7 linked regions of the Homo sapiens genome follow. The protein of the gene in region 6 purifies or fractionates together with the protein of the main gene of each other region. This does not show direct contact. Each region holds a gene or a part of one and is shown on either strand. Other genes may lie near its edges.

Region 1 (3,387 bases), on a different chromosome or scaffold from region 6:
AGATCCGCAGTGGCTTCCTGGCAGCTCGGGCACAGCTCCCCGTCATGGTCATTGTTACCCCCCAAGACCGCAAAAACTCTGTGTGGACACAGGATGGACCCTCAGCCCAGGTTCAACCCCATACCTGCCCCCTAATGTGTGGTTTTCTTCCCAAGGAAAAAGCAGGCCCAGCCTGACCTGGGAGAGACCCACTTCAGTTCCAGTCTGATGTGTCTGTACCCCGCAGATCCTGCAGCAGCTTGTGGTCCTGGCAGCTGAAGCCCTGCCCATGTTAGAGAAGCAGCTCATGGATCCCCGGGGACCTGGGGACATCAGGGTAAGCTTCTGACCAGCAGTGACTCCAGGGCCTCTGGGGATTCTGTCTTTGGAAGTTCAGCGTTCAGGGATCTCACAGGAGACCCGGTCCCCTTGTTTGGTGAGACTGAACAGAGGAGGTGTTGAAGCTGCTGTGGTGCCTGGGGTGGCAGAGCCTGGGGAACCTGGGTTCCATCTGGGTCTCCTGTTTCTAGCCTGTGCTCCTTCTGCCGGGCTATGCAACAGCTGTTTGCTCTGTGGGTCTTGGTGCTTCAGTCTTCAAATGGGCAGGTGGGCCCATAGAGGGTGGTCAGATGGAAGGAGGAAACCAAGGTGGGCGTGTGGAGAGGTTTGTGGTCCAGTTCCTCAGTCAAGGGGGTCCTGCTGACCCCTCCTTCTCCCCTTCCTTAGACAGTGTTCCGGCCGCCCTTGGACATTTACGACGTGCTGATTCGCCTGTCTCCTCGCCATATCCCGCGGCACCGCCAGGCTGTGGACTCGCCAGCTGCCTCCTTCTGCCGGGGCCTGCTCAGCCAGCCGGGGCCCTCATCCCTGATGCCCGTGCTGGGCTATGATCCTCCTCAGCTCTATCTGACGCAGCTCAGGGTTGGTCCTAAACAGCTGAATGACCTGGGGAGGGGACTTCCAGGTGAAGCTGAGGCTGTGGAGGAGCTCTTAAATGCCTGCCTATAATCTTCTCTGTTCTGTCCCTTTCTAGGAGGCCTTTGGGGATCTGGCCCTTTTCTTCTATGACCAGCATGGTGGAGAGGTGATTGGTGTCCTCTGGAAGCCCACCAGCTTCCAGCCGCAGCCCTTCAAGGTGTGCTGGCTGGTGACAGCTGTGTTCCTGAGTGTGTGCACGTGGTTCTGTGTGGGCATGCATGTCTGTGTGTAGTCTGTCCTATGGGCAAACCCGTGTCAGGTGCGGAGTGTATGGGCTTGTGTTTCTATCCCCACCACCCCCACTCTGTACCCAGCTTGGTGTCTCTGGGTGTGCCGCTGTGACACTCAACCCACATCTCTTCTCTGATTTCCCCAGGCCTCCAGCACAAAGGGGCGCATGGTGATGTCTCGAGGTGGGGAGCTAGTAATGGTGCCCAATGTTGAAGCAATCCTGGAGGACTTTGCTGTGCTGGGTGAAGGCCTGGTGCAGACTGTGGAGGCCCGAAGTGAGAGGTGGACTGTGTGATCCCAGCTCTGGAGCAAGCTGTAGACGGACAGCAGGACATTGGACCTCTAGAGCAAGATGTCAGTAGGATGACCTCCACCCTCCTTGGACATGAATCCTCCATGGAGGGCCTGCTGGCTGAACATGCTGAATCATCTCCAACAAAACCCAGCCCCAACTTTCTCTCTGATGCTCCAGCATTGGGGCAGGGGCATGGTGGCCCATGTAGTCTCCTGGGCCTCACCATCCCAGAAGAGGAGTGGGAGCCAGCTCAGAGAAGGAACTGAACCCAGGAGATCCATCCACCTATTAGCCCTGGGCCTGGACCTCCCTGCGATTTCCCACTCCTTTCTTAGTCTTCTTCCAGAAACAGAGAAGGGGATGTGTGCCTGGGAGAGGCTCTGTCTCCTTCCTGCTGCCAGGACCTGTGCCTAGACTTAGCATGCCCTTCACTGCAGTGTCAGGCCTTTAGATGGGACCCAGCGAAAATGTGGCCCTTCTGAGTCACATCACCGACACTGAGCAGTGGAAAGGGGCTATATGTGTATGAATAGACCACATTGAAGGAGCACAATGCCCTCCTGTGTTGATGCCACTTCCCAGGGTGGAGACAGTGGAAAAGAACCGAGGACAGGAAAGGATTGGGTAGGTGAAGGGGTCAGGGGACTGGTAGTCACCCAATCTTGGAGAGGTGCAAAAAGCACTGGGGGCTACCCGTTAGCTGCATCTGCCCTGGCTGTTTGCCCGTTCATGTCACAAACTGCCACTACTATGTACCTGCAGTGGGGTTGCAGAGATGGGGGAGACTCAAGTCTTACTCCCCAGGAGCTCCCAGGGCCCAAGGAGGAGAATGCTGCCTCCTTTCAGTCTGGTCTACACCCACTTTCTGGTAGCCTCTCTGCTTCCTGTAATTCTGGCTGTTTTTCCAGACTCAGCTCAAATAGTGCCCCTCCTTAAGCCCATCCCTCGCCCCCAGCCTGAGGTGATCTTTCCCTCCTCTGAACTATTAGAGCAGTTACTGTCTGTTCAGTTCGTTTGGCAGGCACACACAGTGGCATAAATTCTATTGTTTTGAACTCTGATTTAAAATTAAATTGCAGCTGGGCGTGGTGGCTTATGCTTGTAATCCCAACACTTAGGGAGTCAGGAGAATCACTTGAGCTCAGGAGTTCTAGACCAATCTGGGCAACAGAGAGACCCCATCTCTTTTAAATAAAAAGTTAAATTGCTTAATTTCCCCCGTATTCCTGGCCTGTCTGCCCCTTTCACATAATTTTAACCTGGTTTCTTGTATGTAAACTCCTTGAGGGCAAGAACATGTTTGAACATAGACTTCTTCGTGTCCTTCCTAGCACCTATTACAGTGCTTTGCTCAGGGGCCATCCAGCACAGGCAGATGGGGGGCAGAGAAGCCCACTGGAAGATTGCAGAGTAAAGGGAATCCATTTGTGAAATCTGCCTGCAAGAAGTGGGTGGTGACGGTGAAAGAGAAAGCCTAAGAGATTATAGAGTTGACGTTTATTGAGGGCTTAATAGGTGCCAGGCGGGGTTAGGTGGTGGTATCCGTATCTTATGTGCGGAAACTTGTCGTACAGTCATAACGAGCCGTATGGAGTAGGTACTTTCATTTACCTTCATTTTCTGAGTGAGAGAACAGGCTCAGCGCAGGGGCCCGTTGTGTGAGGAACTTTGATGCCTGGCTAGCAAGCTCCATCCTCAAGATGAGAAGCTGCATGTGGGAACTCTGGCCTCCAGTTCTGTCTCAACTGTTGGTCTTTGTGAATCACTGCTTGCCTCTACTGTCACTGCCATGGAGCAGCTCAGCCCAGGGTTGAAATTAGAATAGGGAGGGAATAAATTGGCTGGCTGTGTGAGCTGGAGTCCACATCTCTCCCTCTGCTATTCATTCTTGAGCTTCAAGCATC
Region 2 (3,815 bases), on a different chromosome or scaffold from region 6:
CACCACGACCGGCCCAAACCTTTCAAAAGTGCAATTTGAGCTAGGCATGGTGGCTAACGCTTGTAATCCCAGCACTTTGGGAGGCCAAGGCAGGTGGATCACCTGTGGTCAGGAGTTCAAGACCAGCCTGACCAACATGCCGAAACCCTGTCTCTACTAAAATTACAAAAATTAGCCACAGGTGTGGTGGCACATGCTTGGAATCCCAGCTCCTTGGGAGGCTGAGACACTAGAATCGCTTGAACCCAGGAGTCAGAGGTTGCAGTGAGCTGAGATCTCGCCACTGCACTCCAGCCTAGGCAACAGAGTGAGAAAAAAAAAATTGCAGTTTGGTGCCCAACTTAACGTAACCTGTTAGTAAATGATTTCAGATCTTATTTTCACCAGAGGAAAGAGATAGGGTTGTGGGCTCCTAGGCTAAAGTGGCTAAGTGGGCAGCTGAGCAGAGGTCAGTATATTGTTATTTGGAATACATTTAAGGATTAAGGATGTTAGGTTGAAAAAGAGTCTTTATGACATCAGTCTGTGTGGCAAACCTTTCTCCCACTCCTACTTCTTTGAAGTTATTGGGAATCATTTGCTCTATTGTTTTCTCTTTTACATTCTGTAAGCATTTCAGGATTTTCAAGAGAAAAACATTTGTTAAAATAACAGTAAAAACATAAATAGGAGAAAATAATCAGGATGTGGGGAACATTTTATTATTTTAGAGGAATAAAACTACCAGCTTCTCAAGCACTTATCTTTAATGTAAATTTCTTTAGAGAAATTTCAGGTAGGCAACTTCGAAGAGTCAGACACATGCATCCATAACAACAGTCCTGTAGTCATCCCTTAAGGAAAGCCACAGCATGACCATAAAATATAGTTCAGTGCAGGGATTCAGGTAGCCTTCTGTTTGTTGCAAGGTTAGAGTTTAATGTGCCTACAAGGAGTTTCTTAGGTGGGCTTTTGTCCTCTTGTGGAGATTTTACTCTGGTGAAGACTGAAAGGCAGGTGTTCTGAAAATCTTTAGGGGAAGGCTGTGTATGTTCTAGAAACCAAACCAAAATGTGGGAAGGAGGATGAACAACTGAGATTTTTGCTTGTTAGGTCACTTCAGGTTAGGCAAAGTTGTGTTTTTTTCCCCCCACAAGAAACACTTTTTTTCAAAGCTATTCCAGCAAATGAATAGATAGTTTTTTGTTTTTTTTCTTTTTTTTTTTGAGACGGAGTCTTGCTCTGTCACCCAGGCTGAAGTGCAGTGGCGCAATCTCGGCTCACTGCAAGCTCTGCCTCCCAGGTTCACGCCATTCTCCTGCCTCAGCCTCCCAAGTAGCTGGGATTACAGGCACCCGCCACCGTGCCCAGCTAATTTTTTGTATTTTCAGTAGAGACAGGGTTTCACTGTGTTAGCCAGGATGGTCTCGATCTCCTGACCTCGTGATCTGCCCGCCTCAGTCTCCCAATGTGCTGGGATTACAGGCGTGAGCCACCGCTCCCGGCCATGAATAGATAGTGTATGAAAACCACTGGGCACCATACCACTAAGATGAGACAGCTTTAATCTGGAAACCTGTCACTGCTATTATGTAATCTCTATATTGCTCTCATATAATACCTCTTTTTGAGCCACATGGATTCCAGTGAACCCTCCAAGAATGAATTAGTTACAAGAATGTGCCCCTAATTATAAAACAAACTATAAAGACAAATTATCCTGCTGTAGTAGGACATTTGAAATAAATCATTTATATTTTGAAGGACGTCTGCCCATTATGTTTATTTGCATATAAAGGAGCTACGTGCAGATAGGGTCTGTTCCTAGCTTCACTGGAGGAGGGCCTGTGGTCTTACAGGATATGAGTAGCTGTTTGAGCACTGTAACACTGGAAGAAGCAAGGCTTCTAGATGTGTGTTTGGGATATGTGTTTCTACTAAACCTTAAGTAAGGGCCATATCTTCGGTAATTTTGTCCCCAGATGTGTTGTTATCATTGATTATGATAGTCAGGTTCAAGGTGTCATGAAGGATTTGTTATATTTAAATGTTTAGTAGGTGATATAGAGATTTCATAAGATTACATTTTTTAAATGCTTGGATAGTTTCTTCTGTGAACTATTTCATGTCCTGTCTCAGCTTCACTTAAAATATTTTGTCAGGAACTGTCAGAGGACTTTTTATTAGATATTTCTGAGATAATATTAAAAGCATTCCAGGCCGGGCGTGTTTGCTCACACCTGTAATCCCAGCACTCTGGGAGGCCGAGGCAAGTGGATCACCTGAGGTCAGGAGTTCGAGACCAGCCTGGCCAACATGGTGAAACCTCGTTTCTACTAAAAATACAAAAAATTACCTGGGCGTGGTGGTGGGCACCTGTGATCCCAGCTACTCTGAAGGCTGAGGCAGGAGAATCGCTTGAACCCGGGAGGCAGAGGTTGCAGTGAGCCAAGATCATGCCATTGCACTTCAGCTGGGCAACAAGAGCAAAACTCCGTCTCAAAAAAAAAAAAAAAAAAAAAAGGCATTCCAGTATGAGTATTTGCTGGCAGGTAAGGAGAAATTACAGTAGCAGTGTTTTTTCTTTTTTTTTTTTTTTGATAAAGCTTTCTAGAGATTCTCTTTGTTTCTGTTCCACTAGTGACAGAGGCCAAGCAAGAATTAATAACCTACCCTCAGCCTCAGAAAACATCCATACCAGCACCATTGGAAAAACAGCCCAACCAGCCCCTAAGACCAGCTGATAAGGAACCTGAACCCAGGAAGAGGGAAGAAGGCCAAGAGTCACGCTTAGGACATCAAAAGAGAGAAGCAGAAAGGTATCTGCCTCCTTCTCGAAGGGAAGGGCCAACTTTCCGAAGAGACCGAGAGAGGGAGTCATGGTCTGGAGAGACACGCCAGGATGGAGAGAGCAAAAGTAAGTAGTTTGTCAGGGCACATACCAGACTGTGATCATCACAATGGAGCATAGATGGCCAATGTTATGTCCGGGAGCTATCTGCTTTCCAGTACCCTGAGAGATCTGTGCATGACCTGATGACAGAGGCCATTGCTGTCTGTGGACCTTCCTGTACTGCTTAAAGGAATCTATGCCCTTCAAATAGTAAATTGCTATATGAATGCAGTAAGGCATGATTTTAGATTTCTAAGTATTGGTGAAGAAAAGTATGCAGTATTTATTTGTTTAGCATTTTTTTACAGAACCAGCCTTGCTAGTAGCATCTATAGTAAAAAATGACAGTCAGATTCTTGGGACTTCAAAAATTTATCTTTCTCTCCCTTGTGTTGCCCTTCTCCCATTTATGGTTGATTCAGCTATCATGCTAAAGCGTATCTATCGTTCCACACCACCTGAGGTGATAGTGGAAGTGCTGGAGCCCTATGTCCGCCTTACTACTGCCAACGTCCGTATCATCAAGAACAGAACAGGCCCTATGGGGCATACCTATGGCTTTATTGACCTCGACTCCCATGCGGTGAGTTTCCTCCACCTTGGATTGGCCTAGAGACAGATGGCTAAAGAACCTTCAAGAAGGTTTGACTGGGGGCCGGGCCTGGTGGCTTACGCCTGTAATCCCAGCACTTTGGGAGGCCGAGGTGGGTGGATCACGAGGTCAGGAAATCAAGACCATCCTGGCTAACACGGTGAAACCCTGTCTCTACTAAAAAATACAGAAAAATTAGCTGGGCGTGGTGGCAGGCGCCTGTAGTCGCAGCTACTCGGGAGGCTGAGGCAGGAGAATGGCGTGAACTCCGGAGGCGGAGCTTGCAGTGAGCCGAGATCGCGCCACTGCACTTCAGCCTGGGTGACAGAGCGAGACTCTGTCTCAAAAAAA
Region 3 (3,815 bases), on a different chromosome or scaffold from region 6:
GCTCTCTCTCAACCTTAAAGTCTGGTGACAAGATAAGCAAGTCGCCTTGCCCAGCTTTTATCTGTGGTATGATTTTAGATAGAAGGAAAGGAAAGAATAAAGAACAATAAAAAGAAAGCAGCCTCCACTACAAGTAGCTGCAGCAGGAACCCCAGGTAAGGTGGGAATTCTGTCTTTGAGGAGTAGCAGTCTTTTCAACCAAATAAAAGATTGAGCAAGTGAGTCCTAGGTTAGATATCAGGAAGGATCTGTCTGTGAAGGTGTTTGGATAAATTAGAATAATCCTAGACTAGATTATTGAGGAAGAATGGGGAATTTCCCGGGTGATGACAGCAGGGGAGAACCCTTAAATAAATAGTACAGCATAGACTATCCCAGTCCTAGATGCTTCAGTGATGATTAAGTAGGATCCACGGTGTTTTTCTGACTCTTCCTTTCGGTTTCTGCAGAAACATATGCTGAAAGAGGGGAAGGGCCGGATGCTGCAGGCCATCAGCCCGAAGCAGAGCCCCAGCAGCAGCCCTACTCGCGAGCGCTCCCCCTCCCCCTCTTTCCGATGGCCCTTCTCCGGCAAGACTTCCCCACCTTGCTCCCCAGCAAATCTCTCCAGGCACAAGGCTGCAGCCTATGATATCAGTGAGGATGAAGAAGACTAATGTTTCCTCCCTCCTTTCCTGTCCTCCCTTTCTGTCCCATTACCTTCAGAAGCTCTCTGTTGAATTCCAAATTGTGACCCCAACACTAAACCTAAGGACAGCTACAAAGGAAAGACAACTGGGGAAAGAAGACCTAGGACTGGGGGAACCCAAACAGCCTGTCCTGCAAGTGACATCACTCACCCACACGAAGGAGGGGGACTGCACCTTAGAAGCCTGCTCTGCATCCATTTACCCCCCCCCAAGGGCTTTGTTTCACTGTTTATGTTCACGTGATCTCAACAGGGAAATTGTCATTTTCATTAATTTTTTAAAAAATTCGTCTTTCAAATGTAGAACTAATTTTTTGCCCCTGAGGAGTGGGCAGAAGAAGGAGGTAGTGTAATACGCAGAGGCCTTTTCTTCCCGGTATACTATAGCATTTGCCTTCCGTTCTGAAGCTATGTGGCTTGCCAAGTCCTTCACGAAATGAGCCACGCTGATGGGTAATTTGTGGAGAAATATCTTAATTTTGATTTCCTTAAGGAAAAGCGAAAAGCAGAGTTACAGTCACAAATCCCCTGAACGTACTGCTGTCACCAGTGTCATTGTGGCTGCGGGAAGGAGATCTGAACCTAACTTTTCTTACTCCCTGAGGAGTTTCTTGTTGGACCCAATGGGGTCCATGAAGACACTGATGGGGATGGAAGCAGACCCATGGCATCAACTGCAGTGTTTCTGCTGTGTTCATCTTCTCAGAAAACTCTGTGACCCAGTTCTTTGGGAGCTTTTGTCAGTCTCTTTCGTGCCATCTACCTTCGAAGGAAGGAACACTTTTAGAGTTACAATGATGAGGAGAGGAGCGGGACAATACTCAATCCTATACCAAGTCGATTGAGATTAGTTTCCTACTGGGAGTAAGTGCCTGGCCCTGCTACTCCTATTTGAATGCTATTAATATTACCTAGCCTTTTACAAAGGATACTTTGTAAATGTCTGCTGTTGGAACTTGATGTTAATCCATTTTGGTCATAGCCATATTAGAGAGATTTGCACAGAATGTAAAGGCAAAAGCATAGGAAACACCTTCCTTTCTAAAGCAACAGCCTTATCACCTTGACCTCTGTCCCTCTTCAGAACATTCTTCCCTGGAACCAGTGCTCCACATCTTTCTTTTCCTCTGAGAGCTGCAGCTGGCAGGGACCTCCCTCTGCTGCTCCTCCAGCAAGCCACAGAGCATACCCTCACGTGACAAGAGTGTGGTAGGTTTTCTCCCCACTTTTCACACACGCCTGGTGGTTGTGGTTCCATCTGCCTTGTTGGCTTGCCCGGGGGGATTCAACACTTGACTTTCAAATCAAAGAATGCTAATGCTTAGCACTTGCTGTTGAGCATGCTCTAACTTTTAAAGCCCTGGCCTCCTGTCTCCTTAGCTGCTTAGCTACGCGGCCTAGCAGATCATCACCCATCAGTAATCCTGTGGCTAGATCCAGGGGAAAATTGCTTATGTCCAGGCCCCACCCCTGTCACTCATAAATACCCCTTGTGGGGGTGGAATTTTAGTGTTTTCAGCTAAGAAAACCACATTTTCTCTTTCCTTGCCTCTGCTAGGACTGTGAGCATCTCATAGTCCACTCCCTAAACACTTTCTGGTAACACCTAGTTTTCCGCCTGAGGGTCAGAGGCTAGAATCATTGCCTGCACAGCAGGACTACCTTGGTTCTTAAAACTTGGATCACCCAGGCAAGGCGTGGTGGCTCACGCCTGTCATCTCAGCACTTTGGGAGACTGAGGCTGGTGGATCACTTGAGGCCACGAGTTTGAGACCAGCCTGACCAACGTGGTGAAACCCCATCTCTACTAAAAATACAAAAATTAGCCAGGCGTGGTGGTGGGCACCTGTAATCCCAGCTACTTGGGAGGCTGAGGCAGGAGAATCCCTTGAACCCAGGAGGCGGAGGTTGCAGTGAGCAGAGATGGTGCCGCTGCAGTCCAGCCTGGGTGACAGAGCGAGACTCTGTCTCCAAAACAAAACAAAAACCACACACACATACAGAAATAAAGAGAAATAATCAACTAGAAAAAAAACAAAACTTGGATCACCCAGAAAGAGCGTCACAGAGGCGAGGGAGAATGAAGCCTCTTGTTATCCTGATCGCCTATGACAACGACATTTCTAACTCTTCTTTGAAGCGCAGTTCTTACTCTTAAATCTGGTCATACAAGCTTTGGCTTGGAATCCTGTCTGTCTTTGAAACAGCTGAAGTTAGTGTTTTCCTGTGTTACCCAGTGTTACATAGTCTCATCTTTGAACTTTTCTGCGTCAGCCTTCTCTCTTTGGGAATGCTGCCTGTTTCTGTCTAACTTATTCTCCCTGGTGTGGTGTGGCAGTGAAGTCTGTGCTGAAGCCCATCTGCTTGGTTCCTCCAAGTGCACATTATGCAAGTGTATTTGGATAGACAGGGAGATGCCCGGAACGTGGTTTTCCTCCTCCCTCCCTATTGGAGCCATACCTCCTAAATATATTGTCTGGGTCCCAAATGTTTGAGCCCTCTTCCTCTGCTCTCAGTGGGCTGCTCTTGGCATGCCCTGTGCTTGGAACGGGACCTGCAGGCTGACAGGCCTCTGAGACTGCTAGGGCCAGCAAACGTACATGTTATTGGGAAACTCCCTTTCCCCTTTTGGTGAGCTTCTACCACCTCAGTCTAATCGTTTTGACTGAAAGCTATTTGTCTGACTGAAAGCTAAAATCTTTTATAGTGTGGCCTGTTAGATACTTTGGGGTAAATGTGGTCTGAGGTGCTGGACTAGCACGGGTAGATGGAGAAAGCTGTTGGGAAGTTGCATAATGTGGTCATCTGTGCCTAATTAAATGAGGTTAGAGGTGTGCACACCACCACAATGCCTGGGATCTAAATCTTCAGATATTAACGTTTGAGGCTATGGAGCTGTTTCCCTGAATCACACACGAGAAAGCAGTCAACATGGGTGGGCCAAATGTGGCCAAGATGAGAGAGCCAGAAGTGTTGGCCTTAGAGCAGAGCCTCTGTGTGTGAGACATTAGAAGGCCAGAGCCGGGGAGGTGCCGGCGCAGCCACTGCCTTCCGGTGGGCCGGACGGAAAGCTTGGTCTTATGCTAGATTCAGAAGCACTGAAGAATGGAGGTTGACACTTTAGAGG
Region 4 (3,815 bases), on a different chromosome or scaffold from region 6:
TAACCGATGAACTTAGAGGTCCTTACTTGTCAAATGGGGGCCACAGTAGTATACAGCTTCGTAGGGTTGCTGCAGGATTAATTAATTAATCCATGCAAAAATGTTCATGATAGTGCTTAGTACACAATAAGTATGGGTTGAGCATTCCTAACTTGAAATTCCAAAATCCAAAATCCTCCAAAATCTGAAGCTTTTTTGAGTGCCAACATGATGCTGAGAGGAAATACTCGGAGCATTTTGGATTTCGGATTTCCAGATTAGGGATGCTCAGCTGGTAAGTATAGTGCAGCTATTCCAAAATCTGAAAAAATTCAAAAGCCAAAAAACACTTCGGGTCCTAAGGACCTTGGATGAGGGATACTTGTACTACTGTTAGCTTTGGACACACTGTGGCTACTGTTGCATTCTGTTATTTTGCATTCGTTTTGCATTTAGAGATGGCTGAGTACATGAGAAAAAATTCCAAACTGGGGATTTGGTTTTGGTAAAAATAGGATGAATGCATTCAGGTGAATTTAATGTCTCTAATTTGGGAGTTTGAATGGAGGACTTGATTGCATTATGAAGAAAAGCAGTGGGGTCTGCGTCCATGGAGGCCTTTTAAATAATGATGTACATTGCTTTCTGGAAATCAGTATTCACCTTAGAGCAGTGACTTCTGAACTTGGCATCAGAATTTCCTGGGGGAACTCTTAAATAATAGGGATTCTTAGGTTCAATCTCAGACCTACTGAATCAGAATCTGTATGTCGTACCCAAGAATCTGCATTTAAAAAAAAAAAATCTATCCTTTGGCTGGGCGAGGTGGCTCACGCCTGTAATCCCAGCACTTTAGAGTTGAGGTGGGAGGATCGCCGGATGCCAGGCCAGGAGTTCGATACCAGTCTGGGCAACATATTGAGAGTCTGTCTCTTGAAAAAAAAAAAAGAAGAAAAAAAAAGGTAAATAAATAAAAATCTACCCTGGAGATGGTGTAATGGCTGGCATGTATATTGGGATTGGGAGTTGGGAACTGTTGCCTGTTGGATGACTGTGTTTCTCTGAGCTATATGATTTTGTGACATACAAATTAACTTTTACAGGCAGCAGCACATGTTGATATTTATTCTGAGCTAGGTAGACCAGTTAACATTCCGACTAAAGTCTGTCCTACCCATGGGGGAAATGACATTCCTTAAAATTTAATGCTGAAACTGAAAATAGCCATGGGGATTATTATTGCCAAATATGTTTTTTATTAGTTTCCCTTTTTATTTTGCAGGTATGCAAGGCAGATGAGAAATTTAATCAGCTGGTCCATTTTCTTCGCAATCATAAGCAGGAGAAACACCTGGTCTTCTTCAGGTACTCCTCTGGTCTCTGTGGTAGAGGCATCAGGGATTCAGCCAGAATGTGCAGGTGCATGCGGCCTTTGGGTTTTGGATTCCATCTAGCATGGTTCTCTCCGGAATGCTTTTGGCTGCAAATAACTGAAAACCCAACTTTTGTTGTCCGAACAAGGTTGGCTTTATTTTTCTCCCGTAAAAAGTCGTCCAAAGGCAGGCAGTTTCTCACATGGGTTTCATGTGTCAGTCATGTCAAGGTCAATGTTGATGTGATTGGTCTTCTCTTCCTATGTGTCACCTCATGGATTCTGGATGACCACTATTACACCCTGTCATGTCTCCACTGAAGAAAGATAAGGGGGGAAAGGCAGAGGGGGCTTAGGGCAATGTTAGCTATATCCATGCCTTTTAATCAGGAGAGCAAAGAGCTTCTTCAGAAACCCCTCTGCCCTAGTTGACTTCAGCTGTGAATTCATCTTAGGGGCCAAAAGTGGGTCACGTGGTGGCCCCTCACTTCAAGAGCAGCAGAGAAAATGAGTGCGCAGCTTTTCTGCCTCTGTAGTAGTGGCCAGTGAAGCAAGAAGTGGTTGGGAATAGTGTTTATCAGCCACCCATGGAGTCCGCCACAGTGGGGTTTTGTCCTGTGGTCAGAAGGCAGCGTAGGGACAGATGCATATGTTCTTTGGACTGGTTGGTTCTTTTCCCCTTTTCTCCAGAGATAAATGTGTTGATCTTTAGTAGTACATAAAAAATAATTTTATATTTATTTATATATTTATATTTATAATTTCTTTTCTATCTGTTATCCTACAAATAAAATGCAATATTGACCATGACCCACAGTAAGAAGTACAATTTGGTACACACCCAAACAAGACAATAAAACAAAGGTTTTCATGAAACTGCACCCTGCTAGGTGGGATGTTTTCTATTCTGTTCTACTCCAGCTGTTAATTTTTTTAAAATGCTGGTCGAGACCCACTAAATTGATTTCAGAACCCACCAGGTCTGTGGGTTGTGAGGCTTAGTGTGTGAAACACCACTTCATTACATACTATGTGACTCAAGGTGGAAAAGAGCGGTCACAGCACAGGTGGAGGGACTGAAGTAGACAAGAGTTAGCCCAAACTGGAATGCAGTAGTGCAGTAGTCTGGTCTAGTGGGAGGAGCATTAGACCTGGGTTCTGGTTCTGCCACTTACTCTGTGTCTCTGGTAAGTTTTAGTTCCCTCATCTGCAAAAGGATGGGAAGTCACTTGGGAATGCTTCCAGTTAAGGAAAAGGGTCCAGGGTGAACTTTATTAGAAGGGTGCCGGGTAAGGAGCTCACAGATTCAGAGAATGTTGAGTGTCCAGCTCCCAGGGAAGGAGGCTCCCTGGCAGGAGTTCATGGGCCATCTCTTTAGGGCATATCTTTATTGGGATGACTGCCAACCCCTTTTTGTCTTTGGATGACTCAGCTCCAAGTCCCAAATATCTGGGAGAAGGGATCTGACTGGCCTAGCTTGGGTTATTTGCTGAGCCCTTGGGAATCCTGCTAATTGGGAAAGAAGCAGTTCCCTAAACGGAAAGCAGAAATGTTTTTAAATCTTGTAACACTATTTGTGGCTAAGATGTCATTGCTTTTGTTCTGAATGACTGTTTCACTTTAATTCCTTTCTCGGGGTCAGGGAGATTTCCCGTGAGAACATCTTTAGACAGTAAAATATGTCCTTGGGGGTTTTAATTCATGTTTAAGGGATTTTGTCAAAAGATTGGCCTTTCATTGGCTGAGAGGATTACAGATTGAGAACTCAGTTGTGGATGATTTCCACTGCCATTTTCCTTGTCATTCCCCTAGGGAGGGCTTGTAGTTAGGTTGCGTCTGCTGCAGCTATTGCTCACTGTTCCCCTCTCCCGGTTGTAGAAGGACCAAAGTGGCCAATGACTCTAAGCCCTCTGTCCCTCTTGCAGCACCTGTGCCTGTGTGGAATACTATGGGAAGGCTCTGGAAGTGCTGGTGAAGGGCGTGAAGATTATGTGCATTCACGGAAAGATGAAATATAAACGCAATAAGATCTTCATGGAGTTCCGCAAATTGCAAAGGTGGGTGGGCTTCATTGAAGGTAGCAGCTCTCCTGCCACACTGCTCTTTCAGGTCCCCAAATGCCCCATTCTCTAGTAGCCTGTGCTGTCCGCATGTGTTGTCTTTCCTGCCTGGAACCCTCTTCCCTCTCTAATCTGGTTATCACATCTCTGTAAACACCCCGAGCCTCCATTGCCCTGTTCCAATTGCTTTGCCTTTTGCTATGTCATTTCCCTAGTTACTGAACTTCTGTGCTAGACAGCAGGCTCCGTGACACAGGAGTCCTGTGTATTGTCTTCACTCCCAGATTGCCCTGTGCCCGGTCCAGGGAAAGGTTGTGATGACTGTCAAGCAGCAAGGAGCAAATCCATTTGTCCTGTCTGGGTAGAAACTGTCTGTGGCTTAAGGCCGGACACGGTGGCTCACG
Region 5 (4,511 bases), on a different chromosome or scaffold from region 6:
TGGCTCATGCCTGTAATCCCAGCACTTTGGGAGGCTGAGGCAGGTGGACTGTTTGAGCCCAAGAGTTTGAGACCAGCCTGGGCAACATGGCGAAACTCTGTGTCTACAAAAAATACAAAAATTAGCCAGGTGTGGTGGCACACGCGCCCATAGTCCCAGCTACTGGGGAGGCTGAAGTGGGAGGATGTTTGAGCCTGGCAGGCCAAGGCTGTAGTGAGCCATGATCATACTATCGAGTCAGAGTGAGACCCTGACACACACACACACACACACAAAAAAAAAAAAGGAGGGAGAAATTAAGAAGTGGTTGTTTTACTAGAAGCTGAATGGAGAGCAAGGTACTCCTGTACAAACTCTAAGGCAGGGATTCCAAGCAGGCGGGCGGCTCCCTGCCCACAATGATGGAGCAAAACTCTTCTAGTAGTGGTCTAAGCAAATGGTTTTAAAAGTTAATCTGTGAGGTTAAGAACTGACTTCTAAGAATTGAGTCTCAAACAGAAAAGGTAAGACTATATAAGGCAAGAAAGACCACACACTTACTTCCTGGACCTAAAGCTACACAGAAACCATCGTTGTTCACCACCCCACCCCACCCAGGCCACTTCCCCACCCCATCTCCTTCTGACTTTGTCCCAAGATAGACTGGACATTTTCAGAAGTTCTTGAATCTTAAAACGCCTTAGGTTCTTTTTACGTATCTGGAGATGGAACCAAATAAACGTTGTGTGACTCTTCCTTTCTCTCCATACTCATACTAGTTTATTGGGGGAAGGAAGGAAATATACTTGGAAACATCTTAAAAGGCAACATCTTTGAAATTCCTGCTCTGATAAGCCCTGAAGAATAACTTCCTCTCTTTGTAAGACCAAGTAATACACTTCTCACTAGGGTTGATCTTGATCTAGGAAGAGATGTTTTCTTGTAACCCTTACAACACATCCAATGAGATGATGGAGCTATCCTATACCAACTGTAGCAGAAAGTACAAGCACCTGGAAGGCAGAAGACAAGAGCTAGTCCCAGTCCTGCAGGCCTATAGCTGGCATTCTTTGAGGAAGACTTGCTTCACTTCTCCAGATCTGTTTTGTCATTTAGAAAATGAAGGGTTTGGGCTAGATCATCCTTAGAGTCCTTACAACTCTAAACTTCTATGTGATGTTCTTTCTTATATGTGATAACAATACCTATTAGAACCATTCTTTGTACTTTGAAGATCTAGGGATTAACAGACAAGTACAGCAACGTGTACTAGCAAAGATGACAGGCCCAAGACACGCTAAAACTGTAGGATTTAAAATACGCAAATGTCTAACAGTTGGCAAAGTATGTGACCAAAAGGTGAAGGAAATCCTGATATCAACTTACACTTTTAAATGCTCTGGAACCAATGAGAACAAATACATTCATCACAAGTACCAGCTGCTCTTCTTACTAAATTTAACAATAACATGAATTTTAACTCAGTGATTTCCCCATCACCAACCCCGCCAAACACCTGTAAATATTTAGGAAAAACAAGCTAAAAAAATTGAATCTAAAAGGCAGGAGAACAAATCATTGCAAATCATTGTGGTGACGGACTGCACTTCAGTTGCAAGATGTTCTGGCTGGATACTAACTGGAGAACGCAAGGCAGCAGATGCAACCCATGGACAAGTTTGAGGTATTTAATACCAAGGGCTGGCAAGTCTGACCCTGTAGTCAAAGTCAAGATTGCCTCTCTGCCTACCAGGACCCCAAAACAAAGTTCCTTTCACTACCCACGAATAAACGGGGGTGGGGGTAGCAAGCCGTTTCCTTTTTTCGTGGAAAGAGCTGCAAAGAGTTTTGTCATGCAACTTGGTTTGGTGCCTGTTAGTGTCAATGTAAGAGCAGCAGAGTCCGCGAAGGTGGCTGTTACCATTCCACAGACCTGCGGCGAGGACTGTCAATCCGATTCAGCAAATAACCCCACCTCTCCAAGCCAGGACTCCAGAGCTGCCCTGTGTGGTGTCTCAGCAAGGAAAGCCAACAAAGCTGGTAGACACAGGCAGACCGTAGCCCACCGCCTGTGAGTGGAGGCTCCGAGCCGACTTCACCTCCTCCTCAGAGGGACCGGCCCGATCCGAAAGGGCGGTCTCCAGGGGTCCCCATCCCGCACCACGCACACAGCCTGGCGCAACTAAAGAGGAAGTCGGATGTCACATCCAACGGATAAATAAAGACAGCCCGGCCACACAAGAGCCGCATTCTGGGCAGGACTCCTGCTAGGTTTGGGGAGGGGTCCCAGTCTGCGATCCTTTCTCCCTCTTCGTGCAGCGTCCTCCTCCCCGGGGCCCGGGCCGGCGGCGCCCACGCAACGCGGCGCGGTGCGAGTCCCGAGAGCACCTCGAGCCCCCGGCCCCCTCCCCAGCCCCGCCGGGCCCGCGGCCGCCGCACTCCCGCACGCCGGCTGCCCAGCGCCCACGGGCCCTGCCCCAGACTCGGGCGCGCAGTTCCGACGGCCCAGGGCGGGGACGGCGCGGCGGAGGGGAGCTGCCGCCGCGGGCTCTCGGAGGCACCGGCGGCCGCACACAGTCCTCCCCTTCGCCGCGAGTAAACAGCTCGCGGGCGCGCTCCAGCCGCGCCCCCATCCCCCCGCCGGGCTCCGCGCCGCCCCGCGCCCGCGCGTCCCGCCCGCCGGCGCCGCCGCCCGCTACCTGGTCGGTGAGTTTGAGCACTGCCATTCTTCCGCTCCTTCGCGCGCACACACATGCAGGTCCCCGGCCCGCAGATGTCACGCCGGGAGCCGGGGAAGCGGAAGGGATTGCCAGGAGAAGGGAAAAAATCTGGCTCCCGAATTTGACAGCCCTCCCCCTGCTCCTCCTCCGCCGCCGCCTCCTCCCGCCGAGAGGCTGACACTGGCTAGTGGGGTTTGCAGCCGAGCCCGCCCGCCTTTCCACAGGAAGTACCGGCTGCTGCCAGCCGGGCCGCCACTGACATCACCGCGCGCTGGCTCGCTCGCCGCCCGCCGCCTGGGCCGACGCTGCCTCCTGCCGCCCGCAGCCGAGCCGCGCAGCCCGGCCCCCGGCGCTGCCCCCGCGCCCGCACCGGGCCGCCGCCTGCCTTCCGCACCTGCACGCGGCGCCCGGCCGGGCCGGCCCCGGGCCCTGGGCGGATCGCGGGCCTCCCTGACGGGTCTCACACATATGGGTGGGGAAGCCCGCGGGGACACACCCCGAGGGGGCAGGAAAGGCTCTCACTCACATGCCGTCCACTTTAACCGGGGAGATGGGGTTACGCCCCCTTCCCCTAACCCAGAATCAGGTGGTGGCAGCGCCCCGAAGATCCCAGGGACCGCAATTATGATGCTCCCTTTGTTTAATGCCAGGAGGCAGCGGACACATTGTGATTCTTTACAGGGTGTTTGCCAAACATTTATGGGTGGAGGGAACAGAAGCTCTGGCCCTTCCACCTTGTTCTCCAGCCACTTTCCAGCTAAACACACACACACATATGCACACACACATACTATTGTTAAATTCAAACACCCTGGGTTTGGTTTTTGCTGGTGGGGGTGGAGTGGAGTTCCTGGAGAAGCAAAGCAGTCCTAAATCACCGAGTTGATGGGTCTTTTGGGTGTTCCCACCAGTCCTTACTGATCTCTACAAAATCCCAAGTTACCAAGCTCTTCAACAAATAGAAGACAGCTGTCAAACACCATGGGCTACAGATACAACGGGCATATTCGTAAGCATAGTAGCTGTTGATAGTTCTGGAATTTGGAGCAAACACTTATTCATTGAACAGCTATGTACTGAGTCCCTACCTTGTCAGGCACTGGCTAGGCACGGGAATAAACGGAGAGCATAAATAAGATAACCTGCTCTCAGAAGATGCCAACATAAACCGCATAGTCTCTGCTAATGAATGTAATTACAAACTGAGATAAGGGATCTCAAGGGAAAACATGCTTCTGAAGTGAACCCACAACAAAGGAATCAGACCAGACTGGTGGGTGAGGGCAGGCTTCCCTGAGAAAGTGACAGGAGTTGAGATCTGGAGAAGGGAGAATTAAGTAAGCAAGTGGAGAGGAAGTGCTCCCAGGCAGCCCCATGTGCCCCTGGCAGGCCATAGAGCAAACCTGTAGGGCAGCATTGAACAGCTTTGAAGAGCAAACTAGAGCTACAGAATTCTTTGGTCAAGACCAAACATCTGCCTCTACTGTATATTCACAAACCAAATGTCCATTCTTCCTCCCTACTCTTAGAACCTCCCCCAAAGATTCCACATGAGACAGGAGAGAAAGGAGCATTAATATCCTCACATTTACCATCCAGCCACTCTGGTTGTCGAAGCAGCTAAATCTCAAATTTACCTTTATTAGTCTTATAGATTATAATTCAGATCATGCAGACAAGAAGAACCAAGGAACTTTGTTCCTGGCTTCCACTCCTCTGTTATCAATGTTGCATGGAAACAAACAAACAAAAAATTCTAAGGCCTTTCTCAGACATACAACAGATTGTTTATGTTGCATCTATGAGTCAGTT
Region 6 (4,490 bases):
TATCCATTCCCTCCACCCCCGCCCAAGTCTCCCAGCGCCCTCTCCAGGCCCTCCTCCCTCCTTATCCTTTCCCCTCCAGGTCTCCCAGCGCCCCTTGCAGGCCCCCCTCCACTCCTTATCCATTCCCCGCCAGCGTCTCCCAGTGCCCCTTGCGGCCATCCTCCCCTCCTTATCCATTTCCCCCCCAGGTCTCCCAGCGCCCCCTGAGGGCCCTCTTCCCCTCCTTATCCATTCCCCCCAAGGTCTCCCAGCGCCCCCTACAGGGCTCTCCTCCCCTCCTCATTCCACCCCTCCCCCCAGTATCTCAGTGCCTCCTGCGGGCCCTCCTCCCACCCTTATCCATTCCCCTCCCCTAGGTCTCCCAGCGCCCCCTGCAGGACCCCCTCCCCTCCTTATCCATTCCCCCACAAGGTATCCCAGCGCCCCCTGCAGGGCTCTCCTCCCCTCCTCATTCCACCCCTCCCCCCAGTCTCTCAGTGCCTCCTGCGGGCCCTCCTCCTCTCCTTATCCATTCCCCTCCCCCAGGTCTCCCAGCACCCCTTGCAGGCCCTCCTCCCCTCCTTATCCATTCCCCTCCCCCAAGTCTCCCAGCACCCCTTGCAGGCCCTCCTCCCCTCCTTATCCATTCCCCCACCCCTCGCCCCCCGCAGGGCTCCCAGGGCCCCCTGCAGACCCTCCTCCCCTTGTCCTCTCCTATTCATCCCCCAGGTCTCCCAAGAACCCCTGCAGACCCTCCTCCCCTCCTTATCCATTACCCTCACCTCAGGTCTCCCCGCCCCCCTGCAGGGCTCTCCCCTCCTCATTCCACCCCTCCCCCTGGTATCTCAGTGCCTCCTGTTGGCCCTCCTACCCTCCTTATCCATTCCCCTCCCCTAGGTGTCACAGGCCCCCTGCAGGCCCCCCTCCCCTCCTTATCCATTACCCACCACCCCCCTCAGGTCTCCCAGCCCCCCTGCAGGGCTATCCTCCCCGCCTCATTCCACCCCTCCCCCCCTCATTCCACCCCTCCCCCCAGTATCTCAGTGCCTCCTGTGGGCCCTCCTCCCCTCCTTATCCATTCCCCCTCAGATCTCCCAGGCCCCCTGCAGGCCCTCGTGCCCTCCTTACTTCCCCCCCGGGTCTCCCAGCGCCCCCTGCGGGGCCCTCCTCCCTTCCTCATCCACTTCAACCCCAAGGTATTTCCGTGCCCCTGCAGGACCCTCCTCCCCTCCTTAGGCGCTCCCCCACTACCCAGTCTTCCAGTGCCCTGCAGGCTCTCCTCCTCTCCTTATCCACCCCCACCCCAGGTCTCCCAGTGCCCTGTATGGGACCCTCCTCCCCTCCTCATCCACCCCCCCAGGTCCACCAGTGCCCCCTCTGGGGTCCTCCTCATCCGTGCTCCCCCTCCCCCTCCCTACTCCCCTTCCCCCCTGCCCCCACAGTACATCACCCCCTCCCCCAACCCTGCCTGGCTCCGCCCCCTTCACGCCCCCTCTTTTCCGCTCCGCGCCTGCGCACTGCCACCCTCCACTCTCGCGCCAGCCCGGCGGCGGCCGGCTGTGGGCTGCAGCACGCGGTGCACGAGGCAGAGCCCACAAGCCAAAGACGGAGTGGGCCGAGCATTCCGGCCACGCCTTCCGCGGTGAGGGGCCAGTCCCGGTCAAGCCCACCTGCTCTCCTCCAAGAGCATGGGCTGTTCTGGGCGTGGGCGGAGGGAGGGGCTGGCCGGAAAGGCCCAAGGGCGGGCGGCAGACGCTGAGGGGCTGCCTGGGAGGGTCGGGTCGGGGCGGGGCGTGGGGGGCAGGGTAAAGCAGGGGCCCTGCCAGGCCTCCGAGGGAGTGTGCTTGGTCTGGCCGAGGGCTGCTTGGCCAAGTCTGGGTGGGCTCGAGGCCACTAGGCCCAAAGCCTGCCTGGCTCTGAGGGTGCTAGGTCTAGAACCGTGCACGAGGGGAATGCCTGCTCGGGCCCGAACCTCGCTGGGCGCCGGGTGTGCACTGGCCCGGGGCCTGCTTGGACCTGAAACTTGCTAGGCCCAGGATATGCACTGGCCGAGAGCCTGCTGGGCCCAAACCTTACTAGGCCCAGGATGTTCACTGACTGAACCGGCTCAGGCCTAACCTTGCTAGGCCCAGGATATGCACTGGGCCAGAGTGTGCTCAGGCGGAACCTTGCCAGGCGCAGGATGTGTGCTGGCCCTAAGCCTGCTGAGGCCCAAACCTGTTCGTTCTAGGGTTTTGTACAAAATCCTGCTTTAGCCTAAATCCTGCTTAGCCTTGACCCCCTCCTAGACCCAAGCCAGATCAGCATTGTTCTGACCCTACTAAGTCCAAAACCTTTTGAGGCCAGACCTTGTTTCAACTCCAAAGCCTGCTAGGTTCCAGCACCCCCCGCATCCCTCCTCATACCACCCCCTTCTCCCCCCTATGGAAACCGCTTGCTTATTTTTCAAACAGGCCAAGTCATTATGGCAGCCACTGAGATCTCTGTCCTTTCTGAGCAATTCACCAAGATCAAAGAACTCGAGTTGATGCCGGAAAAAGGCCTGAAGGAGGAGGAAAAAGACGGAGTGTGCAGAGAGAAAGACCATCGGAGCCCTAGTGAGTTGGAGGCCGAGCGTACCTCTGGGGCCTTCCAGGACAGCGTCCTGGAGGAAGAAGTGGAGCTGGTGCTGGCCCCCTCGGAGGAGAGCGAGAAGTACATCCTGACCCTGCAGACGGTGCACTTCACTTCTGAAGCTGTGGAGTTGCAGGATATGAGCTTGCTGAGCATACAGCAGCAAGAAGGGGTGCAGGTGGTGGTGCAACAGCCTGGCCCTGGGTTGCTGTGGCTTGAGGAAGGGCCCCGGCAGAGCCTGCAGCAGTGTGTGGCCATTAGTATCCAGCAAGAGCTGTACTCCCCGCAAGAGATGGAGGTGTTGCAGTTCCACGCTCTAGAGGAGAATGTGATGGTGGCCAGTGAAGACAGTAAGTTAGCGGTGAGCCTGGCTGAAACTACTGGACTGATCAAGGTACAGCTGGTTTTAATAAACAACCCCTTACATGAAAAAGAAAAAATTCAAGTCGGCTTTTATGCAATATTATGTCTGGACAAGGTATTTTGCAGTTGCAAATTAAAGACAGTACAAATACTTCCCAGGAAAATCTTGAGAGTTCTTAGGTTCTTTTTTAAAAAAGAGTTTTAAAAGTGGTGCTAATTGGAATAGTGTAAGGCGCATTATGTTTTAAAAAAAAGTGTTAAGTTTCACTGCCACAACCCTGATGCGAAATAATTAACATTGTGATGCATAATCTTCCACTTTGGCTTTTCTTTTTGTATTCTGTGCTTCATCCAGGCAAAAGTCTAATTATACTGAAATCAATAGTATCATATTTGAATATTTGTTGTTTATTAGCTCGAGGAAGAGCAGGAGAAGAACCAGTTATTGGCTGAAAGAACAAAGGAGCAGCTCTTTTTTGTGGAAACAATGTCAGGAGATGAAAGAAGTGACGAAATTGTTCTCACAGTTTCAAATTCAAATGTGGAAGAACAAGAGGATCAACCTACAGCTGGTCAAGCAGATGCTGAAAAGGCCAAATCTACAAAAAATCAAAGAAAGACAAAGGGTAGGCCAGTTCATCTCATAGAATACACTCCCTAAAACTGGGCTGCTGTTTTTCTTTATGGGCAGGTGATGGTAATTGAAGTTTTAAGTGGTTGACTTTTACTTTCAAAATGTCAGGAAATGGGAGAAATTTTAAACTAATGTTCTGTATTGTGAATCAAATCCAGAAGGGTTTTGCACTTTACACACAAACGTTTTGAAAGCACAGTAAAAATGTTCCCACAAAGCCTTGTGCACGTAAGCATAGAAGACCAAGCCCTGGTCTCTGCTGCCTAGTTTGCAGCCCCAGAGGGATATGGGGGACAAGTCATTACAGGACAGGTGGTGAGGCCTCGTGTGCTTCAGGGCCAAGAGAAGGAGTGATTCCTCCTTCAGGAAGCCGTAGAGGGTGCCTTCTAAGGGAGGTGATATTTAGGTGAGTCCAGGACAAAGAAGCCACTAAGATGGGGATCAGGATTCCAAGTACTAGGAAGTGGTCTGGGCGTGTAGCTCTGGAAGTATTTACTTTGTATCTGAGGGTGGAGAGCTCTACTGTGTCTGTAGAGCTGGGTGGGTGCTCAGAGAGGTGGATGGGTCCAGATTAGGAAGACCCTGAAGCAATATTAAAGCCATATTAAACTGAGATTTCATTCCAGCAGCCCACAGGATGAATTTGTCCTATGAAAATAATTTGTTTGGCTTATTTTTTAAAAATATTAGTTTCTCACTTATTTAAATCAACATATTTCACCCCCAAAATTTCAATTTCTAGCTCTTTTAAATTATATCTGGCAACACTTGGCACAGTTTTCCTTCCTCCTGGCATCAGGTGCCTGGGATTGGAAGGTGACTCAGTTTAGAAAAGGAGAATGCCAACCAAACACTGCCACCACCACCCCATTCTTACATGTGGTCAGGGCCCTTCACTTAG
Region 7 (3,815 bases), on a different chromosome or scaffold from region 6:
CTATCACAGCTCATTGTAGCCTTGGGCTCCTAGGCTCAAGTGAGCCTCCTCCTTCAGCCTCCCGAGTAGCTGGGGTGACAGATGCGTGCCACCACGCTTGGCTCAAGTCTGTATTTTTAGTTTGTTCTACCACTCGGGCACCAATTCTTCCAGTACTTTCTGAACCTTGTTCCATGGCACACTTCCAGGAGATTTTAACAGCCCCGAATTGAAACTGACTTTGTTGGGAAATTCATTCCTACACCAAGTATTTCTTGAATGCCAAGTTGCACTGATTTGCCAAGTGGCAAATGAGATGAGCCCTTACCGAGCTCACTGTCTACCTGAAGGCAAGTGAGAAATAACAATACAGTAAGACGTGTTGTGAATGAAGAAGATGGGAGAACAGAAAGCAAGGGGACCTAAGCTGCCCTGGAGGTTTAAAGTGAAGCCTGAATTACCCAAGCCAAGGAGAGGATGCAGTGGGCAGAGGCAAAGATGATTCCACAAACGGGAAAAGTACATGTGGAAGCCAAAGGGTTTTAAAGTACAACATCCACCAGACATGTGGGTCCACAGGTTAAGAGTATTAACTCTGGAGTCAGACTGTCCAAGTTCAAATCCTAGCATTAGGACCCTAGAGCAGTCATCTCACCTCTTTGAGCCAATCTATAAAAAAAGAGACACAAATACTGTCTGTCACACAGGGCTGTGGAGAGGATTTAGGGGAATAAGCCATATAAAGACTGGTGCCGACAAGGCACAGTGCTCACACCTGTAATCCCAGCACTTCTGGAGGCTGGGACAGGAGGATCACTTGAGGTCAGGAGTTCAAGACCAGCCTGGCCAACATTGTGAAATTCCATCTCTACTAAAAATACAAAAATGAGCCAGGCGTAGTGGTGGGCACCTGTAATCCCAACTACTTGGGAGGCTGAGGCAGAAGAATAGCTTGAACCCAGGAGGTGGAGATTTCGGTGAGTGAAGATCATGCCACTGCATCCCAGCCTGGGTGACAGAGTGAGACTCTGTCTCAAAAAAAAAAAAAGAAAAAAGAAAAAAAAAGACTGGTGCCTGCCTCACAGGTGAATGCCCAGTAAACGGTAGCTTTTCATAAGTCTAGTACAAACCATTGAGGGAGAGAGTCAGTGGCAGACTAAAGGCTCTGAAGAATCCCACAGGTGAATTTTATTTGAAGTTTCCCATTTGCAGTAGAAACATTCCTGTCACAACAACTGTATTCACATCAGGTGAACCTGAGGCCCAGGGCCCAGGTGGGAAGTGCAGTCTGGACACATCACATCAGGCTCTTGTGGTCCTGCACTCCAGACCCCAAACGTGGCTGAACATGTGGCTCCCTTTTTTACCTCCTCTATGGGGCTCAGGCTGAATTGGCGTTCCTTCCTCCGGGTTCCCCTGGCCTGGCCCTCTGCCCACTGTGCACCACTGTCTGTCTGCCTGCTTGTCTGTCTCCATCCTCCCAGGTCAGGATGCCCACTCTGAGGTAAACATAGGCTTTGCGCCCACAGGATACTTGGCAAGTGCCCAATGACTTCTCCCTTTTTCTTGGCACCAGGGACTTGGTACTCAGACCCAGCCAACCAATCTCATCAGGCCTGGGTCTCCCCTCCCAAGCCTATTAGGGCACTAGATCCCCTCACCTCGAAGCTTCTCGCCAGGTTCCAAGTGGCAGGAGAACCCGAAATCTGAAAGTCGGATCTGCATATTGTCATCTAGGAGAATATTCTCGGGCTTCAGATCTCGATGCACAATGTTGTTGGCATGGAGAAAGCTCACTGCTTCCAGCAGAGACCGCATGATGGACCTGGGGGAAGGGGAGGCGGGTGCAGTCTCCTCCTCGGCTCCTCCCTGCCCTGTCCCACCCCCTGCTCACCCCTGGGGCTTCAGGCTCAACCCTTACCTGGTTTCCTTTTCAGAGAGGGCCACCTTCTCTGTGAGATAGTCAAACAGCTCTCCCTTCCGCATCCTAAGGGAAGGAGGGGCATAGGAGGCAGCTGCATCCCACAGTGGGGGCTGAGAAAACAGACCAGTGCTCATACAAAATATTGTGGAAGAGGCCACTAAAGATAGATCTCTGCAGACAAACCAAAGGGTCTAGAAACACAGCACTCCAACAAGGCAGTTTGGCCTGGTGTGTTGGCAGCTGAAATACCTGCATTATGCCATGATGGGGCAATTATGGCAAAAATAAGAGACTTCTTGTGACAATATAATTTATAGGAGGTTCTTGTTGAGAGTAACTATGCCTGAAAAAGGCCTCTCAAAGTGAATCTATAAAGAAAATGGACCAAAATTTCAGTTTTTTGTGGCACAAAGGTTGAATAGGACCTTATTTTGAAGTTTCGTCTTTAAAAGCTGAGGTTATAATTATGTGTCAATTAAAAATAATACTTTCAAAATTGAGGTTATACTTGCACTCTGCATCAGTCCTCAAAGTAACATTATCAGGTGCTGTTTTGGGGAGTGTAGGCACTCTGCATGGCTGCAGGATGGCATAATAGACATCCTTACGTCCCCTCTGACTTTTGCAGAGGGCCATTTCTGTAAATATATCGAAGCCTTCATGAATTTTTTCCAAGGGCCTCTTTTAAATCTTTGGAATTCAAATCATTCTCTTTCAAAATACCTTTGCAGTTGGTTTGCATTATACCAATTGCATCGGACATTCAGATTCTGACCAGAAAAAGAACTGATGGGCAGAGACAGACACCAGAATAGTTAGCGTGTTAAGCAGCGCGAGAGGCTGGTGAGTGAGGATCTATTTTCTAAGTGGTCAGTCCACTGCTGAACACTCTCTTTTTTTTTGGAGATAGAGTCTCGCTCTGTCACCCAGGCTGGAGTGCAATGGCACGAACTCAGCTCACTGCAACCTCCGCCTCCCGGGTTCAAGCAATTCTCCTGCCTCCCGATTAGCTGGGATTACAGGCACCGACCACCATGCCTGGCCAATTTTTTGTATTTTAGTAGAGACGGGGTTTCGCCATGTTGTCCAGGCTGGTCTTGAAACTACTAACCTCAGGTGATCCACCTGCCTCAGCCTCCCAAAATGCTGGGATTACAGGCATGAGCTACCACGTCTGGCTGGTCACTATTACTTTATTTTTTGAGATGGAGTCTCACTCTGTCGCCCACGCTGGAGTGCAGTGGCGCAATCTGGGCTCACTGCAAGCTCCGCCTCCCGGGTTCATGCCATTCTCCTGCCTCAGCCTCCCGAGTAGCTGGGACTACAGGCGCCCACCACCACGCCCGGCTGATTTTTTGTATTTTTAGTAGAGATGGGGTTTCACTGTGTTAGCCAGGATGGTCTCGATCTCCTGACCTCATGATCCACCCGCCTCGGCCTCCCAAAGTGCTGGGATTACAGGCGTGAGCCACTGCACCCAGCCACTAGTCACTATTAAAGAATTTGCCTCAATCATGGCACCAAGGGAGAAGGCCAGAGCCATGCGCTAGCAGGCAGGCCCAGGTGATAGAGAGCCCCAGCTGGAACAGGAAGGTGTGAGCAGGATGGGTCCAGCCCACTGCACCACAAATGCTGGGCCATACATGGAGGTGGGGAGGAGGCTTCTCAGATGGTGGCAGGGAGATACTCACAGGTCAAACACCAGGAACATGAAGCTAGAAGACTCGTAGGAATCGATGAGGGTGACTAGGGAGAGAGGAAGAGAGGCAGAGAGACAGAGATGGAAAGGAGTGGATGCACATTAACGGGGCTTGGCCACCCTGGGACAGCAGCGGGCTGTTACTGGGAAGAAAGGAGAACCAGAGGAGGCAGTGGGCGCCCAACGGATGGCCACTCTTTAGTGGAATGAAGG

What was found.
Region 1: the proteins of CTCFL (region 6) and NOL6 purify together in Homo sapiens (affinity purification with mass spectrometry; one large-scale study listed by BioGRID and IntAct). This does not show direct contact.
Region 2: the proteins of CTCFL (region 6) and RBM6 purify together in Homo sapiens (affinity purification with mass spectrometry; one large-scale study listed by BioGRID and IntAct). This does not show direct contact.
Region 3: the proteins of CTCFL (region 6) and PCYT1A purify together in Homo sapiens (affinity purification with mass spectrometry; one large-scale study listed by BioGRID and IntAct). This does not show direct contact.
Region 4: the proteins of CTCFL (region 6) and DDX55 purify together in Homo sapiens (affinity purification with mass spectrometry; one large-scale study listed by BioGRID and IntAct). This does not show direct contact.
Region 5: the proteins of CTCFL (region 6) and ANKRD44 purify together in Homo sapiens (affinity purification with mass spectrometry; one large-scale study listed by BioGRID and IntAct). This does not show direct contact.
Region 7: the proteins of CTCFL (region 6) and PHKG2 purify together in Homo sapiens (affinity purification with mass spectrometry; one large-scale study listed by BioGRID and IntAct). This does not show direct contact.

Annotation. Positions count from the first base shown.
Region 1 is NC_000009.12:33,460,760-33,464,146, reverse strand, and holds the end of NOL6 (nucleolar protein 6), read left to right. Parts: coding exon 1-110; intron 111-226; coding exon 227-316; intron 317-705; coding exon 706-900; intron 901-1,012; coding exon 1,013-1,114; intron 1,115-1,333; coding exon 1,334-1,483; 3' UTR 1,484-2,794; downstream 2,795-3,387. UniProt on the Homo sapiens protein: Part of the small subunit (SSU) processome, first precursor of the small eukaryotic ribosomal subunit.
Region 2 is NC_000003.12:50,055,108-50,058,922, forward strand, and holds part of RBM6 (RNA-binding protein 6), read left to right. Parts: intron 1-2,620; coding exon 2,621-2,896; intron 2,897-3,294; coding exon 3,295-3,455; intron 3,456-3,815. UniProt on the Homo sapiens protein: Specifically binds poly(G) RNA homopolymers in vitro.
Region 3 is NC_000003.12:196,235,529-196,239,343, reverse strand, and holds part of PCYT1A (choline-phosphate cytidylyltransferase A), read left to right. Parts: intron 1-449; coding exon 450-656; 3' UTR 657-3,815. UniProt on the Homo sapiens protein: Catalyzes the key rate-limiting step in the CDP-choline pathway for phosphatidylcholine biosynthesis.
Region 4 is NC_000012.12:123,611,909-123,615,723, forward strand, and holds part of DDX55 (ATP-dependent RNA helicase DDX55), read left to right. Parts: intron 1-1,212; exon of another isoform or gene 1,213-1,261; coding exon 1,262-1,344; coding exon of another isoform or gene 1,345-1,398; exon of another isoform or gene 1,399-2,057; intron 2,058-3,276; coding exon 3,277-3,408; intron 3,409-3,815. UniProt on the Homo sapiens protein: Probable ATP-binding RNA helicase. Has ATPase activity and is involved in the maturation of precursor large subunit rRNAs.
Region 5 is NC_000002.12:197,307,900-197,312,410, forward strand, and holds the start of ANKRD44 (serine/threonine-protein phosphatase 6 regulatory ankyrin repeat subunit B), read right to left. Parts: upstream 2,882-4,511; 5' UTR 2,706-2,881; coding exon 2,679-2,705; intron 1-2,678. UniProt on the Homo sapiens protein: Putative regulatory subunit of protein phosphatase 6 (PP6) that may be involved in the recognition of phosphoprotein substrates.
Region 6 is NC_000020.11:57,522,159-57,526,648, reverse strand, and holds the start of CTCFL (transcriptional repressor CTCFL), read left to right. Parts: upstream 1-1,508; 5' UTR 1,509-1,621; intron 1,622-1,951; exon of another isoform or gene 1,952-2,432; 5' UTR 2,433-2,443; coding exon 2,444-2,986; intron 2,987-3,370; coding exon 3,371-3,581; intron 3,582-4,490. UniProt on the Homo sapiens protein: Testis-specific DNA binding protein responsible for insulator function, nuclear architecture and transcriptional control, which probably acts by recruiting epigenetic chromatin modifiers.
Region 7 is NC_000016.10:30,751,383-30,755,197, reverse strand, and holds part of PHKG2 (phosphorylase b kinase gamma catalytic chain, liver/testis isoform), read right to left. Parts: intron 3,650-3,815; coding exon 3,595-3,649; intron 1,967-3,594; coding exon 1,901-1,966; intron 1,805-1,900; coding exon 1,641-1,804; intron 1-1,640. UniProt on the Homo sapiens protein: Catalytic subunit of the phosphorylase b kinase (PHK), which mediates the neural and hormonal regulation of glycogen breakdown (glycogenolysis) by phosphorylating and thereby activating glycogen phosphorylase. May regulate glycogeneolysis in the testis.